Linked DNA regions of Homo sapiens. The protein of the gene in region 1 interacts with the protein of each later gene in a pairwise test. Each region holds a gene or a part of one and is shown on either strand. Other genes may lie near its edges.

What was found.
Region 2: the proteins of TEX29 (region 1) and MAL interact in binary tests that used the Homo sapiens proteins (3 or more experiments, as listed by UniProt).

Annotation. Positions count from the first base shown.
Region 1 is NC_000013.11:111,337,574-111,341,387, forward strand, and holds part of TEX29 (testis-expressed protein 29), read left to right. Parts: intron 1-1,720; coding exon of another isoform or gene 1,721-1,865; intron 1,866-2,289; coding exon 2,290-2,359; intron 2,360-3,814.
Region 2 is NC_000002.12:95,031,983-95,035,796, forward strand, and holds part of MAL (myelin and lymphocyte protein), read left to right. Parts: intron 1-3,814. UniProt on the Homo sapiens protein: May be involved in vesicular trafficking from the Golgi apparatus to the cell membrane. Plays a role in the maintenance of the myelin sheath, and in axon-glia and glia-glia interactions.

The DNA.
Region 1 (3,814 bases):
GTTCAGTGTGGGAACATCTATCTAGGGTGTAAATACCAGGAGGTGAGAATCGGGAGGCCATCCTGGAAGCTGGTTATGGTAGCCCCGGATATTTGGAGGTGAGTCTGCCCCACTGTTTCCCCTCCTCAGGTAAGCAAGTTTCCACGGGACAGTCCTCACTTAAAGAAATAAGGCAGCTGATTGGAAGAATGTTTGACAAGCAGTTTCCCAGTGTGCTCCTCGGTACATGCACATTCCTGTTATCTGACAGCTTGCAACCCCAAGCCTCGCTCCCTTCCTCCAGCCTCTCTGTGAGGAACTCTTATCGAGCGCCCATTGGGTACTTCACCATTCCTTACTGAGGTCACCTCGGTATGAGGAAAATCGAGGATGTGGGTTACCCTCACAAGCTGGCTTCAATCCCCTCTCAGTTTTCTGACTTCAGTCCCCATGGAAAGAATCCTGGGCACCTCATCCATTGCTGGTGGCCCTGTGATGAGTCCAGGGAGTGCGGATCCCTTCGGAAGCTGGCTCATGTGCCCAGGAGGCCACTTTCTCTGCACCTGCGGCCTTGCTTCTGGGGTGGGTTGAATTGTGTACACCCAATGCATATGTTGAAGTTTAGATCCCTGGTACCTGTGAATGTGACCTAATTTAGAAAAAAGGGTCTTTGCAGGTGTAATTAGGTAAGATGAGATCATAGTGGAGTAGAGTGAGCCCTCCATCCAAAATGGCTGGTGTCCTTGTAAAAAGAGAAGAGACACAGAGACAGAGGAAAGACAGCCACGTGACAATAGGGGCAGAGACTGCTGTGATGCTAGGAGGAAGCCAGGGAGGACCCTTCCCGGGAGCCTTTGAAAAGAACACGGCCCTGCTGACAGTTTGTTCTTGGACTTCTGGCCTCCAGAACCATGAGATGATCAATTTCTATTGTTTTAAGCCCCCCAGTGCATGGTACTTTCTTACAGCATCCCTGGCAAACTGACACACCATCCAGGGAAATTACATCTGATGGTGTTGTTACTGCTTCACGACTTGGAAGCAGTTTAGCAGGAGGGGAGGTATGGGAATTGAAGCAAATCGTGTCACCTGCACTTGATATTTGCAAGTCAGCCAGTTTCTTTGAGAGAGTAAGAAAGCAATTAGAGAAGAGACTAATATTGATAATAATAACAACAATAAGAATTACTCTGTATATGTGATTAGCCAACCACTTAAGAACTTTACTTGCATTCATTAAAAAATTCCTTACATCAACCTGACGGAAGGAACATAGAAGAACAAACAGTAGATGAGGATATTATTTGACCAAGGACTCTGAGAGGAATGATGCTCGTGTACAAATGTTAGGACTTGAGGGGTCCAAGTCCTGAACCAATGAGCCGACGGAGATCCAGATATCAGCCCTCGGTGCTGGGCGGTGCTGCGCCCCTCAGGCCTCTTGCACAGACAGGGCCCTGCCTGCTGAGCAGTGGGCAGTCTCTCAGAAAGAGGCTCAGGAGGGGGCTGAGCAGTTCCTCCTCCCAGTTACCCCCGTCTTGGAGAGGCTGGGAGTGCACTCACGCAGGGAAACCCAGGGTGGCGGGGCTGCCCCTCGTGGCCACCTGGGGAGGCTTGACTTTTGCTGAGGCTGGGTTGGAGAAGGCACGGGAAACTTGGGGATTGCAGGAACCCCTTTTAATACAAGGAAGCCCAGTCAAGGATTTGTCTATGATCCAATAAGTGTTTTCCTTGTATTCAGTTTAGGGGAGGAATTGACCTGGGCATTGAGGAGCCATTTCCAGGGAGCTGGGGAGCACAGCAGGAACAGAGGGGCCAGCGCCATCTCTCCACGCACCCCCAGGGGTCAGGAGCCAGCACCATCTATCCTCCACACACTCCCGAGGGTCAGGAGCCAGCGCCATCTCTCAGCACAACCCCGTGGGTCAGGAGCCAGCGCCGTCTCTCAATGCACCCCCGGGGGTCATGAGCCAGCGCCATCTTTCCATGCACTCCCGGGGGTCAGGACCCAGTGCCGTCTCTCCATGCACTCCCGGGGGTCAGGGTGGTCACAAGGTGTCCTCTGGGTGGCACTGACTACCACCTGGAGCTGCCTTTCACAGGGAGCCCTCGCCTGCCTGCGGGGGCCTTTGGAGATGTCCACAGAGCTGAGTCTCCAGGAGACGCTGGGGAGGGTGGGTGAGGAGTGCTGACCATGGGCAGCCGCGCCGGGAGGGCCCGCACCCGACTCTGGGAGGGTTGCCTTTTCTTCATCTTCTTCCTTTTCTATTTACCTGGATCGAAATGACTTCAAATCCCACCATTTTTCAGTTTACATCCACGTGTTCTCTGCCTTGATTGTGATCATCGCTGGGGCCTTCGTCATCACCATCATCTACAGGTCGGTCCCTTTGTTCTTTACTGGGAGGGTGGGGAGGAGGGGACTCACCTCTCCTGGCCGCAGCTTCCTGCCTGCCTGGGCTCCTTCGGGCTTGGTGCTGCTGGGGTGACTGAGAACAGCTCTCCGTGAGCCTGGGAAAGGGAACTGGCCAGGCTCACGGAGGGCCCCACTGATTTTCTCCAGAGTGCTTGTTGATGAAAATCATAACCCATGTTTAGTGAGCACCTGTGCTTGTTGATGAAAATCATAACCCATGTTTAGTGAGCACCTGTGCTTGTTGATGAAAATCATAACCCATGTTTAGTGAGCACCTGTGCTTGTTGATGAAAATCATAACCCGTGTTTAGTGAGCACCTGTGCTTGTTGATGAAAATCATAACCCGTGTTTAGTGAGCACCTGTGCTTGTTGATGAAAATCATAACCCGTGTTTAGTGAGCACCTGTGCTTGTTGATGAAAATCATAACCCGTGTTTAGTGAGCACCTGTGCTTGTTGATGAACATCATAACCCGTGTTTAGTGAGCACCTGTGCTTGTTGATGAAAATCATAACCCGTGTTTAGTGAGCACCTGTGCTTGTTGATGAACATCATAACCCGTGTTTAGTGAGCACCTGTGCTTGTTGATGAACATCATAACCCGTGTTTAGTGAGCACCTGTGCTTGTTGATGAAAATCATAACCCGTGTTTAGTGAGCACCTGTGCTTGTTGATGAACATCATAACCCGTGTTTAGTGAGCACCTGTGCTTGTTGATGAACATCATAACCCGTGTTTAGTGAGCACCTGTGCTTGTTGATGAAAATCATAACCCGTGTTTAGTGAGCACCTGTGCTTGTTGATGAAAATCATAACCCGTGTTTAGTGAGCACCTGTGCTTGTTGATGAAAATCATAACCCGTGTTTAGTGAGCACCTGTGCTTGTTGATGAAAATCATAACCCGTGTTTAGTGAGCATCTGTGCTTGTTGATGAAAATCATAACCCGTGTTTAGTGAGCACCTGTGCTTGTTGATGAAAATCATAACCCGTGTTTAGTGAGCACCTGTGCTTGTTGATGAAAATAATAACCCGTGTTTAGTGAGCACCTGTGCTTGTTGATGAAAATCATAACCCGTGTTTAGTGAGCACCTGTGCTTGTTGATGAAAATCATAACCCCTGTTTAGTGAGCACCTGTGCTTGTTGATGAAAATCATAACCCGTGTTTAGTGAGCACCTGTGCTTGTTGATGAAAATCATAACCCGTGTTTAGTGAGCACCTGTGCTTGTTGATGAACATCATAACCCGTGTTTAGTGAGCACCTGTGCTTGTTGATGAACATCATAACCCGTGTTTAGTGAGCACCTGTGCTTGTTGATGAACATCATAACCCGTGTTTAGTGAGCACCTGTGCTTGTTGATGAACATCATAACCCATGTTTAGTGAGCACCTGTGCTTGTTGATGAAAATCATAAC
Region 2 (3,814 bases), on another chromosome or scaffold:
TCTCCACAGGATTGTCAGACATGTGTCATCACACCTGAGCTATATTTTAAAAGATTGCCTTTTAGCTTTTCATAAGTCACTCCCCCACCTCACAGGGATGGGGCAATGCCAGAACTGGTGCAAAGGCACCCTTTCTGTCCCAGTGCTTTCAGAAGTGAGTAGGAAGCCCCACGATGCTGCTGCCAGCAGCGCTCACACTCAGGTCGGCCAGGGACAAGGGCTGAATTTTGCACCTATACTCGCCACACCAGCAGGCGAGGGGCAGAGCATATTGTGCTGCCAGCACAGACTAGCTCTGCACAGCCTTAGCAGTGGCTTGGCTTTGTCCTGGGCCCAGACACATTCTCCAGAGAAGGGGCTGGGAGTAGGGACTGGACCACCTGGGACCTGCCTTGACACAGGACAGAGCCAGCCAGACTTGAACTAGAAGGGGCTGGGGGCTGACTTAAGCCACTCCAGGGCTTCCTCCTGGCCCCTCCAGTGTCAGTGCCGGACATGGTGCTTTGGACCAGCAGGCCTCAGGGACAGGTGCTGATAGGACACCCCAGAGGGTGTACCCTCCTGGTGTTGATGGGTGTGAGGACAGTGGGGGACTGTGCCCCTTGTCCTTGAAGCAGGAACGTTCTGGGGTGTGTGGCCAGCTCCTTCTCACAGCTTTCAGATTGTTCCCAAGGGCATGGAGCATGGAGCAGGTCCCTCGTGGTCTCTCATCAATTTGGAAGGCTCCAAATTGCCTTTGACACCCTGGTGAAAGGTTTGATACCCAGTGAGCTCCTAGCTGGGCATGAGCAGTGTAGCCATTTCCCTTCTTGGGGTCATGAACGTGCCACACTCTGCTTCTCTGCAGCACTTCTCCCCAGGCTCTCTGCCGCTGCTACCTCATTCACAGCTAGTGTTCTATGCCAGGATTGGGTGAATCATTTTAATGTACCCGGGCCCTGGGTCCTGCAAAACATATGTAGGAAATCAAAGGAAAGCCTGTCACCAGCCACAGCACCTCCGCAGCGGGAAGAGAAGGTGCAGGGTCGCACAGCCAGCCTCACTGACCTGCAGTTCCTGGCCACAGCCTCCAGTCCCTGTGAGAATGCAGTGGGCTGGGAGGGGAGGGGCTGGAAGGGCAGGGGGAGGAGACAGAAAGTGAAGGTCCCAGAACCAACTTGGAGGGAGGCCCACGGGGGGCCCGGGAGGTGGGCACTCCAGGAATAGGGCCACGGGGAAGGACAGAAGATGACGTTCCCTGACCTGTCAGTGGAGTGGGGCGGGTGGGGTCTGCATGGCAGCCCCTCCCTCTTCTTCAGACTGAACTACAGGCCTGCATCTGCCGAAGAGGGAGCGGGATCCTTTGGCATTTCATCTTGTGCTGTATGTGTCTTAAACACAAACCTTGCTATTGTTTTCCTCTGAAGAAACAGAGGATATTGAGACTCATTGTTTCAGTGGCGGGCCAGGGAGGGAGAAGCCGGCTGGGAGTGGCCTAAAGACTAAGTGGTTATTCGCCACTTAGTTAACATGGAGGAGGCTCCATGTTAACGCGCCTGTAATCCTGGCACTCTGGGAGGTCAAGGTGAGAGGATCACTTGAGGTCAGGAGTTTGAGATCAGCCTGGGCAACATAGCAAGACCCCATTTCTACAAAAAATGTAAACAATTAGCCAACTATGATGGCTTGCACCCATAGTCCCAGCTACTCAGGAGGCTGGGATGGGAGGATTGCTTGAGCCTGGAGGTCAAGGCTGTAGTGAGCTGTGATCGCATCACTGCCCTCCAGTGTGGGTGACAGAGTGAGAACCTGTCATCAAAACAAAAATCTCATGGCCATTTCCAAAGCTGACCCTAGACACAAGAGGTAACTGTCACACCCATGGGGGCCTGGATCTGGGCCTCAGCCAGCTCATCAAAGGAGCACCCGGCAGCTGTGGGAACGTGGGCAGGTAACTGTGCCTCAGTTTCTGCATCAGTAAAATTTGGACATAGCAGCACCTGCCTCACATAGCTACTGCCCCATAGCTATCAAGTGCTGTTATTATTAGTTGACTAATAATTTAAGCATCTGCTCTGAAACCAACTGGCCGACCTGTGCCGATGGCAGGGTCCGCAAGGCCCGCCCCCATCACCTTTGCCATAGGTGCCCTCTGTTCCATTCTCAGGCAGGTGCTGCATGAGGATTGGGATTGGGCCAGGCTGTGGAGGGCACACTTGACTTTTCCCTGGAGTCACCGAGTCCTGCACAGACACCACCTTCCTGGGGCCTTCCCAGTGGCTCTCCTCTCACCAAGAAGGAACAACTGAGGGCAGAGGTCAGTGTGTCCTCAGCTAAGAGCTTGATGGAGCAGCCAAGGGGTGGAGGACAGTGTGGCAGCCCCAGCCTGCCTTCTGCCCAGGGAGCAGGCTGCTTTCTAAGCCTCTCTGCATCACCCTGCCAGCCTGGTGCCAAGATGGGCAGGCAGAGCTTTGTGGATTCTGAGTGTGACACATAGCTACATCTGCCCGCAGGCGTAGGAATGAATTATCAGCAGGCTCAGATTAAAGCTTTCAAAAGCGATTTGTCATCAGTGTCAGTGTGTCGGCTGTATGCAAGGGCATCAGTTCAGGGAGGGGGCAGCCTCTGGCAAAAACCTGTGCCCTCACCTCCCCCAGCCTCCATCCTGGCCCCCAGCTGCTTGGCAGGAGGGCATAGTTGGATTGAGGGGCCTGGCAGGAAAGGAACCGCCGAGCTTATGGGTCTCAGGACTATTTCTAAAACCAGCCACAGACCTCCTTCATCTCCATCTGTGGTCAGGTTGGGGGCAGCAGTGGGAATGCTTCTTTGTTGGAGGTGACCCTTTAGGCCCGAGCTAACCCATCCCCTCCACCGGGAAGCCCACCCTTCTAGCACCCTTTCCTGGCACTCAGAGCACATCCTGCAGACCTTTGCTTATTGTCTGTCTCGTGCCTACACCCTAAGTCTGCCCACATCCCTGGCACAGATCAAGAACTCTGAAACATTTGTTCTCAGCAAGCATCGGTAGGGAAGGGGCTCGGGTCTCCTCTCTCACCTACCTAACACTGATGAATCATAAGATGAGTCCTTGACCTCAAAGGCGGACAGAGGGTGAAACTGACAAAGGCTGCCAGTCCCCAAGAGACTCTGGGAGTTCCATCTCCCTTGGACCCTCCCAGACCCTGGGCGGGCAGCCTTCTGTCGCCTCTGGCAGGTGTACACCTGTTTTGTTGGTTTGTTCACATTACTAACCTACCTGGTGACTCCCATAAATCCCTTTTGTTTTTCTTGCATTTAAGCCACTCCTGTCTGGTCCAGCATTTCCACGGATTTTGCCTTTTACAGGTGGCTTACCCAGTATTTTCACAGAACCTCTTGGTTTCTGTTTATCCTGCTGGGTAAGGCCAGCAGGTGTAGATGTGGTAGGCAGAATTTTCCATTCAAATGAAGACATGCCTATCAGAAAGCCCCTAGATTTGTGGATCTGAGAGGAGTTTTTGTGCATTCAGGAACTAGTGACCATCCTCTAGCTCATGAGGGAGGTGGGTGTTAAGTCAGCAGTCACTTTGTCCTGCTGGCAGCGTGTGCTATGGGAGAGGCTTCCCTGGGGCTCAAGGGGGGTGAGATTGCAAGCCTGAACAGGGGGCTCTTCCCAGTCCAACTTGCCTTGTTAATATAAACTATGGCCCTCCACTCAGCTCTTAGATTTTTTTTTTTTTTTTTTTTGAGACAGAGTCTTGCTCTGTCGCCCAGGCTGGAGTGCAGTGGCATGATCTCGGCTCACTGCAACCTCTGCCTCCTGGGCTCACGCCATTCTCCTGCCTCAGCCTCCTGA